Linked DNA regions of Homo sapiens: all the other regions are reported to be linked to region 1. Evidence: microRNA targets listed by miRTarBase, many of them from high-throughput screens and not tested one by one. Region 1 holds a microRNA gene; each other region holds the end of a gene's coding sequence.

Evidence for each region. Region 1 holds the annotated microRNA hsa-miR-3165 (AGGUGGAUGCAAUGUGACCUCA, at 1,759-1,780, shown strand). A microRNA usually pairs through its seed, bases 2 to 8, with sites in the 3' UTR of a target mRNA and lowers its output. Matches are read on the target gene's strand: a 7mer-m8 pairs with bases 2 to 8, a 7mer-A1 pairs with bases 2 to 7 and ends in A, and an 8mer does both.
Region 2: miRTarBase lists MYOM2 as a target of hsa-miR-3165. The part of its 3' UTR that is shown has no 7-base or 8-base seed match.
Region 3: miRTarBase lists SSBP2 as a target of hsa-miR-3165. The part of its 3' UTR that is shown has no 7-base or 8-base seed match.

Annotation. Positions count from the first base shown.
Region 1 is chr11:72,069,903-72,074,051 of GRCh38, reverse strand. It overlaps MIR3165 (microRNA 3165), which reads left to right and starts at 1,750; the gene lies at 1,750-1,824. NUMA1 (nuclear mitotic apparatus protein 1) reads left to right here. Exons shown (of 27, transcript NM_006185.4): 2 at 4,141-4,149.
Region 2 is chr8:2,144,755-2,148,754 of GRCh38, forward strand. It overlaps MYOM2 (myomesin 2), which reads left to right. Exons shown (of 37, transcript NM_003970.4): 37 at 1-702. The coding sequence ends at 227. Among named protein-coding and RNA genes, the nearest start is that of MIR7160, 70 kb to the left of the region's middle.
Region 3 is chr5:81,416,713-81,420,712 of GRCh38, reverse strand. SSBP2 (single stranded DNA binding protein 2) reads left to right here. Exons shown (of 17, transcript NM_001256732.3): 17 at 180-4,000. The coding sequence ends at 209. Among named protein-coding and RNA genes, the nearest start is that of ACOT12, 25 kb to the right of the region's middle.

The DNA of each region.
Region 1 (4,149 bases):
TAGCTAATTTTTTTTGTATTTTTAGTAGAGACGGGTTTCCCCATGTTGGCCAGTCTGGTCTTGAACTCCTGACCTCAGGTGATCCACCTGCCTCAGCCTCCCAAAGTGCTGGGATTACAGGCCTGATCCACCGCAGCCAGCCTCGGAAGCTACTTCTTAAAGCTCTGTGAGCTAAGTTCTATTATTACTATTCTCTTTTACAGGGAAGGCAACTGAGGCACAGGTAGATTAATCTCCCCAAAGCCACACAGTTTATAAGTGGTGGAGTTGACATCCTAATCCAAGCATTCTGGGTTCTACATCCCACATTCTGAACTTCTACAACATGCTGAAATTTCTTCCCTGTGGCAAACCAAAATCAGTCTTCCTGTAACTTCCACTCATTAGTTCTGGTTTTGTATTCTTATAGTGGACTCATAAGTCTTTCTCCTCATCTATGTGAAAGCTATGCGTATATTTGAAAAAAGTTTTCTTGTTCTCCCCTGGCTAAAAGTGTGTAGTTCTTCCTCCATATTTGAAATGATATACTTCTAGACCCTTTGCCATGGTCATTGGTGTTCTTCCTCTGCAAGTCCTCTAACTTTGCTCTTCAAAGGTGGGGCATAGAGTCATCTTCTACTAATGCAGCTTAAGACTGCATTGATGTTTTGGGTAGCTCTGTCAGATTCATGGTTTACTGAGAGTGTGCTTAATAATGGCCTCTCCTCTACCTCCTACTGTGGGCAACTTTTTTTTTTTTTTTTTTGAGACAGGGTCTCGCTCTGTCACCCAGGCTGGAGTGCAGTGGCTGTCTTCCCACCTCAGCCTCCTAAGTAGTGTAGCTGGGACTACACCCGGCTAATTTTTTTGATTTTTAGTAGAGACAAGGTCTTGCTGTGTTGCTCAGGCTAGTCTTGAACACCTGAGCTCAAGCAATCCTCCTGCCTCGGCCTCGCAAAGTGCTAGGTTTATGGGTGTAAGCCATTGTGCCTGGCCTAGGCAGCTTTTTTTTTTTTTTTTTTTTGAGACGGAGTCTCGCTCTGTGTCACCCAGGCTTGAGTGCAGTGGCGCGATCTCGGCTCACTGCAAGCTCCGCCTCCCAGGTTCACGCCATTCTCCTGCCTCAGCCTCCCCTCCCGAGTAGCTGGGACTACAGGCACCCGCCACCGCGCCCAGCTAATTTTTTGTATCTTTAGTAGAGACGGGGTTTCACCGTGGTCTCTATCTCCTGACAGTGTGATCCGCCCGCCTTGGCCTCCCAAAGTGCTGGGATTACAGGCGTGAGCCACCGTGCCTGGCCAGGGGAATAGTTTTGACAATTCCTCTGGCAAATTGGAGGAGGAGCTGTCTAGAAAGGCCAGTATCTTGGGTCTCATTGAGGGGAGGAGAGAACCAAGGTAAAGGGTTGGCTATTAGGTAATCAGTCGCGGTAATAAGGGGCCATTTGGCAGAAGTAAAAATGAGGTATCTGATGGCTGTAGAAGGGAGAGAAGGCATTATTGCATAGCATGCTCCTGGGTTGAGGCCTCTGTTGGCAGCTGTGTCGCCTGCCCTTTCTGTCCTATTGAAGGGCCAGTTTCTTTGAAGTCTGCACAGGAAATACCAGTGATTCAGCCTTGCAGATTTCTTCTGCCTTATTGCAGCTGAGGACTGGTTTATCTGGTGAGGAGGAAAGACTGCATATATTTCAGGCATGTTTATTTGATACTTGAGTGCCTTCCTGTGACTGGCCAGAGACACTTGTTTTGCAGATTGTCAAATTTTTGGTACCCGGTGGCAAGGTGGATGCAATGTGACCTCAACTCTTGGTCCTCTGAGGTCACATTGTATCCACCTTACCACTGGGTACTAACGTGTGGGCAGCAGCTGCATTCTGCCTAGCGAGTGGGCATTTGTTCAGTGCCTGTACTTCTGTGATGGCCTCAATGAGGAGTGAGGTAATTGCCTGCTTTTCTAGATTTCCTGTGGTGTGACAATGTGAGTTTTGGAGAAACCTCTTATTCCCTAAGAATTTCCTACTATACCCCTCATGAGCTGCAGCAAAGTGGACTCTGTCTGATTGCTGACCTCCAAATGCCCAGTTTCCTTAGGTAGTGAGCAGATACCTAAAGTAATGAGTGCCTATTATATCTGTCACAGAGCTGAGTATATAAAAAAGTATATAATACAGGATTTCCCTCCTTACTAAATTATTTTATTTTGAAAATTTTCAAACCTATAGATATTTTGCAAAATAATGTAACAAATACTTATATACTTCTCATTTAGAGTCACTATTAACATTTTGCCAAATTTGCTGTCTATTTATCCTTCATTTTCTGAATCTTTTTGACTGTTAGATGTAAATATCATGTTATTTAATCCCTATTTCAGCAAGTATTTCCTAAGAAAAAGGTATCTTCCTATATAACTACAGTACTATTAACACTCAGGAAACTTAACATTGATTCAATACATCCAGTATATAATACTTGTTCAGATTTCTCATCTTTTCCCAGTGATGTCTTTTATTGAGTTTTTTAAAATTCAGGATTCATTGAAGGATCATGCATGTATTTATGCACTTAGTTGTCATGACTATCATGTCTTTAGTCTGCTTTAACTTTGAACAGTTCTTTTTTAATCTGAATGCCTTTTTGTCTTTCATAGCATTTGTCTGATTCTTCTTGATTAGATTCAGGTTAGGCATTTTTGGTAGAAGAACTATATAGATTAATACAATAGTTTGATTGATGAGGCTGACACTAAAATACATAGAAGCAGTATCTGATTTTGCAAGACAGTATATAATTTAGCACTTATTTGTGTTGTCTAATCTATAAACCCTATAGGAATTTACAGAAGAAGGAATTCAGTAGGACTTGGATAACTAGGAATGAAATACTTTGGCAGAAAGATGGGGTTTGGAAAATGAACAGAATTGGAGGCAGTTGGGATATGGTTAGATAAGCTGTGATTTGGGCTTCCCATCCTACTATTAAGGTTGTGTATCATGAAAAGTGACTTTGAGGGTTCTGTATCTTCCATGGTGTTTGCACTGCTAGAAGCCTAATGGTGTAGAGCTCTTGCTTTGGCATCAGACAGGTCTAGAGACTGTGCCCAGCATTTTGCCAGTTACCTAACCTTGGGGAAGTTTTCTCATTTGCAAGATAGAGTATTAATAACTATTTAAAAGGTTATCGTGATGCTCACAGTGAGACACTACATAAATATTTGAATTAAAATATTTGAATGCCTTTAGGGGGGTGCAGCGTTTCCTAGATCTGCCATGTGCCCCACTGGATCATTCATTTTGTTTTGTTTGGATACGTGGTTTCGCTCTGTTGCCCAGGCTGGAGTCCAGTGGCACGGTCTCAGCTCACTGCAGCCTCCCAAGTGGGTGGGACCCAGGCACACTCCACCACACCTAGCTAATTTTTTGTATTTTTGTAGAGACGGAGTTTTACTATGTTGCCCAGGTTGGTCTGGAACTCCTGAGCTCAAGCGATCTGCCCACCTTGGCTTCCCAAAGTGCTGGGATTACCGCTGTGAGCCACTGGGCCTTGCCTGGATAATTTGTTTCTGTTACCTGCCTGACCCCTGAAGATGTTTGAATTTACCACTCCTGGATAATTGAAAGCAGGGAAATGAGAAAAGGCTTGGCTCACGCAGAGAGAAGTGGGAAGACTGGCTTGATCAATTCAGAGTATATTCTGTAGAATAGTGGGAAATAAGGTTGAATAAATGACTTGAGGCCATATAATGGAGGATTTGGAAAGTTAAGCCAAAGAATTTAGATATGATGCTTTAGGGAGAAGAAAACTGGAAGATTTTTGAGCAGGAGGAGAGACACTTGAAAATGAGAGTGGTGTGGGGCCTCCTGAGGAAGAAGTTTTCTGGCTTAAAGACTGAAATCCTAACAGGGCAGGGCCTTCACAGTGCTGACCAAGTGTGGGTGTGGCTTGGCAGTCTTGCCACAGAAGGCCAGAATTTCTGCCCCAGTGACTCTTCCTGCTCTGCCACTGACTCACCCCGTTGACCTGGCCTGCATGGCTTCCCTTCTGCTTGCTGTCTGATCCACAGAACGCTGGGGTTGCCCAGGATAATGTGAGGCTGAGCTCACTAAGAGTGGGTGGGTTAGGGGAATGAATAATCATTCCTGTCCCTTTGCCCCTTCCCTAGGTGGAAACT
Region 2 (4,000 bases), not on the chromosome of region 1:
TCTCGGTGAAGGTGGAGCAGGCCAAGTACGTCAGCATGACCATCAAAGGCGTGACCTCCGAGGACTCGGGCAAGTACAGCATCAACATCAAGAATAAGTATGGCGGGGAGAAGATCGACGTGACAGTGAGCGTGTACAAACACGGGGAGAAGATCCCGGACATGGCCCCGCCCCAGCAAGCCAAGCCCAAGCTCATCCCCGCGTCTGCCTCAGCGGCAGGCCAGTGAAGGCGTTTTCCTAGCCTGGAGATGGGAAAATATGCTTGGCAGAGACAGGAATGCTGTGTGCTTGTTCCAAATGAGCAGCTGGCATCCGAGTGGTGTCCTGTGTGGGCTGATAGTTGATCACACATTGTGCTTTTGATTTTTGCATTTGGTGATGAATATTTTATACCCGTCTAAGGGAGAAAGCTAATGTTTTCCACAAGACTGAACAACGTGTATTTACACGAGGGTAGACGGCAGATGCCTGACAGAGAGTGGGTTGGCAGACAACACACTAGAATTTTCACGGGTGTGGGCACATGGGTGTGGCACCTGGACGTGTGCAGCATGTGGCGGTCTGTGTGAAGCCACCGTGCTTCTCTTTGGGGGGCCGCGAGATCTAGCATCTCTGAAATCCTGGCTGTCGAGGCTTTGAAGCATGTGTTACCTGGTTAAGCTTGTTTTCTCTTGCTTTAGGCAAATAAAAGTTTAAAAATCACCTTGTTGTGGTTTTCCTGTACCAAATCACACCTACCTGCCCCTGCTCACCCCCTGGCTTGTTTAATTATGGGTTATCATGCACTTTCACGGCTGGTGGGGTGCAGATAGTGCACTCACCCTCCAGAGAGCAGGGCATGGTGAATCACACCCCCAAAGCCCCTCCGACCCACGGGGCTGGGCTGCTGGCCCCCAGCGGCACCCAAGACGGCACCAGTCCTAAGAAGTGTGCGTTTTGTGCAAGGCTTAGAAAGGCCACCTAGTGATTATACCACGGATCTAAAAGTCTCTGTAGAGGAAAATGAAATGCAAAGATGGCTCTGTTCTTTTTTAGTGTGCTAATGAATTAGGAAGGGATTTCAAAAGAAAGAAGGCACTCATTCAGAATGATCACTGCAGTAGCCATGGAGGAAAAATAAAAACTTGGCTGCCTACACAAGGCCTCTTGGTGAAGTTAAAAAACGTGTTTAGGAGGAACATACCCTCTCTTTGAACTTTTTCCTCCTTTGTTTGGAAAGAGGCTGAAATTCTTCTGGCATAAAAATCCCATTTCAATATTTTAGTTTTATTGTTGCTTTATAACAGAAAAAGCTTTGATAATTAAGAATGTTTTACCTTTCTGTGTCATTAAGGGCAATCCAAATTTTACGAGAATTTGTTATATTTTTCTAAGGTAATAATACAAATCCTGAGAATTAAATATGTCCCCAGTAACATAAAGCTGGCTGAGCTGGTTTCCATGGCAGTAAAGTGAGTATCAGCAAGAATTTTATTTTTGTTATTTCTCCCTTTTCTGTCGTGCAGATGAACTTGAGCGGAGTTTGTTCTTATTGCGTGGTGGCAGCCGCGTTTTCCAAAGCGTGCTTGGCAAGGGTAGGCGCAGACAGTCTCAGTTTGACCTTGATTTAGTTAAACAGATTTTGTTTATTTTCCAGTTTAAACAGTCATTTTTGTTTAGCAATCGTGGTTCATGGGAAATAATTCAAATGGTTGTGAATTTCTTGAAGCCATATATACTATTTTTAATAGACCTCCTTTTTGAGCAGTTTTAGGTTCACAGCAAAGTTAAAAGGAAGGTAGAGATCTCCACTCCAACCCCTACCCCCACCACAGCTTCCCCCGCTACCAACACCTCCCACCAGAGGGATGTGCTTGTTACAACCGCTGCACCCACACTGACACGTCACCATCCTCGCAGGCTGGAGTTTACCCTGGGCTCGCTTCTGGCGCTTGTTACAACTGCTGCACCCACACTGAAGCGTCAGCATTGCCGGGGGCTGGAGTTTACCCTGGGCACACTCCTGGTGCTGTTGGCTCTGTGGGTTTGGTCGGGTGATCAGGACTCAGGTCCACCATTGTAGCATCATGCACAGTCTTTTCTCTGCCCTAAAAATCTTCCCTTCAACCACTGAGCATTTTACTGCCTCCATAGTTTTGAGTTATAATATTTTTTAAAAGACTTTTTTTTTAAAAGAATGAAATAGTCTTAGACATGCAGTAAAGTGTCTTTACAACGGCGCAGAGAGCCCAGTGGACTCCACAGTCTTCCTGTTGTTCACGTCTCGCGTTGCTGTGGGGCGAGACGATGGCCTCACCTCCGGGTGGCCTTCAGACCTCGCTGGGTTCCCCCAGTGCCCTCTCTCTGTCCCAGGACCCATCGAGGACACCAGATGAATTTGCTGTTCACGTCTCCCAGCCCCTCCGTCCTGCGATGGTTTCTGTCTGTCCTTGCCTTTCATGACCTTAGTGGCTTTGAGGAGTTTTGCTGGTTATCTTGTAGGATGTTCCCCAATCCAGGTCCCCAGTCCAGGGAAGACGATCTTCGTGTGATGAGACTGGGGATGTGTGCTTTTGGGAAGAGGAGTCATGTGGGGTGCCCGACATCCGCTAACCTTCATCACTTGCTCAGGTGATGTCTGCCTGCTGTCTCCCATGAAATGCCTGCTTTTTCCTCTTCTCCTTCTATTCCTTGGGAGCCTGTCTCAGCCCAGACCACCCTCAAAGAAGCAAGAGCATGGAATCACGTTCACCTCTTGGAGCAGGAGCATCTACCTCTGTTATTTGCAATTCTTCTGGAAGAAAGATTGTCTCCTCTCCCTATTTATTTATTTATCCCATCATTTACTGACATCTGTATGGACTCTTGTGCTGTATTTCAGCTCTGGGATGTGACCCATGTTTCGCCATGCATTTTCTTTCTTTTCTTTCTTTTTTTTTTTTTTTTGAGACACAGTCTCCCTTTGTTGCTCAGGCTGGAGTGCAGTGGCACGATCTCGGCTCACTGCAACCTCTGCTTCCCAGGTTCAAGCAGTTCTTCTGCCTCAGGCTCCTGAGTACCTGGGATTACAGGCACCTGCCACCATGCCCAGCTAATTTTTGTATATTTAGTAGAGATGGGGTTTCACCATGTTGGCCAGGCTGTTCTTGAACTCCTGACCTCAGGTGATCCACCTGCCTTGGCCTCCCAAAGTGCTGGGATTACAGGCGTGAGCCACCGCGCCCAGCCTACTTTCTTGCTCAGGTTTTTCCAGTGTTGGCCACAGGGAGCCCTTTCTGCCGGCCTCCGGGGTCTGTTCACAGCTGCCTCTTTGGGCACAGCCTGGTTTTCTGGCACTGCAGGACACCCAGGCTCATCTGTGCGTTCCCTGCTCCAGTCCTAGACCCATTTCTCCAAGGACCCCTGGTTCCTTTTACTGGAGGGTGGGATTAGAAGCCAAGATCTGGGTGCCGCTGTGTTTATGCAAATGAATATCTCAAGATATGTGATGCCAGTCGGATCACCCCTACTCCCTCAGGGCAGAATGCGGAGAACTGAGCACCTGGAAAGACATCGAGGTCGCCCACTGCCTGTGCCTGGAAGTCCTGGGCTTGCCCCTCTTGGAGGAAGTCAGGGTTCCGCCCTTTCGTCGCTTTTTAAGAATCCGTGCATGTGGCAGTGGAGGCAGCGAATGCTCAGCACGGAGAGGGCCGTGGTTGGAGCTCTTCGCCTGAGTCGTTTCATTTGACAGCTGTGAGGATGACACAAAACAAGGAACGGGAAGACACCAGGAGGGTACAGAGTCATTTGCCGAGGTATTGATTCTGTGAAAAAATTAAATTTTCCTAGAGCCATTTGGAAATGCATTTCATACGTTGTCGGCATCCCACTTCTCTGTCCCTTAGTGCTTTGGTTTTTTCCCAAGAACAAGGAGCAGAGTGTTCCCTTGTGTTTCCACAGCACAGCTCTTAAAGTCAAGGGACCCGACCGTCACACAGCAGCGTGATCTGCAGTCCATATGCTAACCTTGCCAGTCATCCCG
Region 3 (4,000 bases), not on the chromosome of region 1:
AGTTAAGTCTGTATCATTTTACTTTTTTTATAGTTTCTTATTTTATGTTGTATGAGATGAAAAGCTTGCACATAAAAGATGATAAGAAATTAGAATTCATCGTTTCTGTTGTACCAAGAAGAACCTTAGTGATCTCTAAAAGAATTGTTGTTAAAATATGGATTCTTCTTTCCTTCTAGTACTCCCCTAGCATGACAATGAGCGTGTGATCCATTACCAAGTCTCCTCATGAAAACCACAGTGAGTCAGCCCTTCACAGAACTACTACGGAAGAAAATTATTCATCACAGTGTACAGTTAAACAAAGGAATCTCAGTCACACCAAACCAACCTTTTTATTTCCTGCTCTCTCCCCTCTTTTGTGAAGAAAGCGGGTCCAAATGTGATTCAAACAACTGTACGGAGTGGCATATTAGAATTGCCCTAAACTGAACTGCAAATAATTATGTGTGTATGTATATGTGTGGGAAAGAGAATGTACTGTATATGTGTATGTTATACAGACATATACACATACATACATTGACCCACAGGACATTGTAAAATATTATCACATGACATCTTAAGTAGAAATAAGTAGGGACTTTTATTCCATCCTTTTTTTCACGTTTACATTTTAATTATTACAAGTTGCTCCTGCCCCCTCCCTGAACTATTTTGTGCTGTGTATATCACTGCTTTATATAAGTTATTTTTTAAGGTGAACTCAGATGTTATGGTTTTGTAAATGTCTGCAATCATGGATAGGAATAAAATCGCTTATTTGAGAGCTTTCATTAAATTGCGTCTGATGCAAGTTATCCTGTGAATCACAAAGTGTACTGTCTCAAAAAATAGAAGAAAATGTGTCTTCGTCTTTATGTTGAATCAAACAATTTCTCAGTTACCTTCAGTGAAAAGTATTTTTTTAATTTTTATTTGAGAAAAACACTTCAAATCAGTAAAAGCTTAACTGGGGCCTCACACAGTATATTTCTGCAATAACTGCTTTAAACGGAGTTCTTGATTTGTTTGTCTTAGATGATACAGAAATCATTAAATAGCCCAAATCATTTAGACCATAGCAATAAAGTGACCGGGGTTGTCATATATTTAGCAACATCTTTTCTCTTTAACATGATGAAGCCCAAAAGTGATAACAAAAGCATTTGCTTGAATTTGTCACTTCTCACCAGGAGTACTAGAGGTAAATTTTTAATAACATACTAATGTGAAATGGTATCTGGTTTTTATTCAGACTTTTTGTGAGCATATTCTTATAGACACTAGAAATAAATACATAGAAGGAGACTTTGAGCACAAGGGAGAAGAGAGTTATTAGCACTCCTGAGGCCTCTGGAATGCTGCTTTTCTATCCAGGTATCTTGCTTGCTACCAGCAGAATTGACTGGTATTGGTTCTCACTGGCCAGGGAGCCTCTGCTCTGTTCCTGGAATATAAGGCTTTTATTCAGGAGCAAATCATTGATAGTAACTTTGCTTTATCTAGCCATTGACTTCAGCAGGCTAAAACTACATTGTGTAACTGACTGTTCAAAAAAGAATAAGTAAATTTTTTTTAATCTAATTCCCTTATGGAAAGCACCTTGCTCTATGGCACTTTCCAGATCTTTTGGGATTTTGTGCTTAATTATACATACATACACCAAAATCACAATAGAAAGATATGAAGACTTTAATTTTAGACTCTGAAAGATAACTGGGTGATCCTTTGTGTTAAAATTGTGATACAAACAACCATTGATAAATACCAACTATGAATCCAAACTCTAGAGACTTTGAAAAGCATTGTTTAATTGCAGGTAAGAGGAATCTTCTCTTTCCTTTAGGCTTATAGTCTCTAAAGTGAAAATTTGGCAGGATATAGTCATGCAGCTCATAATGACATTCCAATCAACCACAGACTGCATATACAGCAGTGGTCCTATAAGATTATAATACCATATTTTTAGCATATCTTTTCTATGCTTAGATACACAAATACCATTGTATTACAGTTGCCTTTGGTATTCAGTACAGTAACATGCTGTACAGGTTTGTAGCCTAGGAGCAATAGTTTATATTATATAGCCTAGGTGTGTAGGAGCCTATACCATCTAGGTTTGTGTAAGTACACTCTATGATGTTCAGACAAGGACAATATTGCCTGACAATGCATTTCTCAGAATGTATACTTATCATTAAGTAACATATGACTGTATGTACTAGTTCCTGATGACTTACTTCTCTCAAATTCATAATGATTTAGTCCTTGTAAAAATAAAGATTTTGCCTGTGCCTAAACAGGGATACTAGGCAGAACTGTTGAGAAAAAAAAGCTGAATTAAATTTATGTTGCAGATTTAAACTATCATAAAATGAGCCTCAGTTAATCACACACAGTATTCAGGTGCCTAGGAGTGCACACCGGAGAACAGCCTCATGCTGTCAAGCTGCAGAAACCTTTCATGCAAATTCAGATGAAAAGGTCTTTACCTCAAGCCAGGGTAACCTGAATGAAGGTGATAGTTTGTCCAGACACCTGACTTTACCAAGAAGAATTTTGACTTTCATATTTTATGACAATCATATAAAAATTGACAGTCCTTTGATTATTAAGCTTAATCTTATAATGCTAGAATTTTCAAATATTTTGTTGACTCTTCTCCATTGTTACCGATCTTGAAATTCTTTTCTTCGCCTTCTGAGAAGGTATTATTTCTTATCACAAAGAATGATGAATATGATTTTATCTACCCTTATTTTGGGGGTAATACGAGAATATGAATTGCATCATGATCCCCATTATTTCTAACCTAAAAGTAAAATTCGTTTTTTTTTTCAAGGCAGAGCAGTCAATTGATTATAAGTATTTATTTCTTTTTTCTTCTTGGAGCCCAGATTAAAAAGAGTTATTTTAGATTTAAAAATTTCCTGAAATAGTTGAAAAATTATTTTTGAGGAGAAAATTGTATCCAAGAAACCCAGAATGTAAGGATACTTGATTTTTATATCCAGATAATTCTTTCATGCACTGAATGGAAGACAGTATATCTGTATATTAATTTTTGTTTAGATTTTGAATCATTTAACCCTTATCCTTTTTTCTTGTAATAAGACTATTTAATGTTTTTCTCTTGTGTTTTCCATCTTTATCAATGCATTCGTGTTGGTCTTGATGTATACTACCTGTTCCTAGTGTTATTTTTACACGTCATCTCACAGTAATAATATCAGCAATTCTTGCTGCATTGAACATATTAAATACACATGTAAAATGAAAAAGTAAGCAGTAGGTAAAATCTTGTTACTCTGCTTTGCATTCTGCCTAACTCACTGCATTTGAAAATACATGTCAAATTCTTTCTGAGGGTATGTATGATTCTTAACTACGTGTCTTACAGCAAAGTTGCCCATGGGAACAAAGGCTGTAGGGTGTCATTGATCTTGTAATACAACACATATTTGATGGGTGAATCTTATTAGCACTCCTTTGAAAATGTTCCAGTATGGAGTCAGTTGCTGATAAAGAGGAAGTTCACAGCTAGGAATCCGAAGTTAAGATTTCTCAATTGCCGCCTGGGCACTCATGCCTGTAATCCCAGCACTTGGGAGGCCAAGGTGGGCAGATCACCTGAGGTCGGGAGTTCAAGACCAGCCTGGCCAACCTGGTGAAACCCCCCCATCTCTACTAAAAATACAAAAATTAGCCAGGTATGGTGGTGGCTGCCTGTAATCCCAGCTACTCAAGAGGCTGAGGCGGGAGAATCACTTGAACCCAGGAGGCGGAGGTTGCAGTGAGCCGAGATTGTGCCACTGCACTCCAGCCTGGGTGACAGAGCAAGACTCCATCTCAAAAATAGAAAAGATTTCTCAATTGCCAAAAAGATTAACAAGTAAATCAATTCTGCTCCCCCAGCCATGAAAAGTGCCCAAAACAGCCCTTTCCCTCCAGAATAAAATAAAACTTCCATTTCTATTTTTATGATTCTCTAAGATATCTGAACTCCATTGCATTTCAT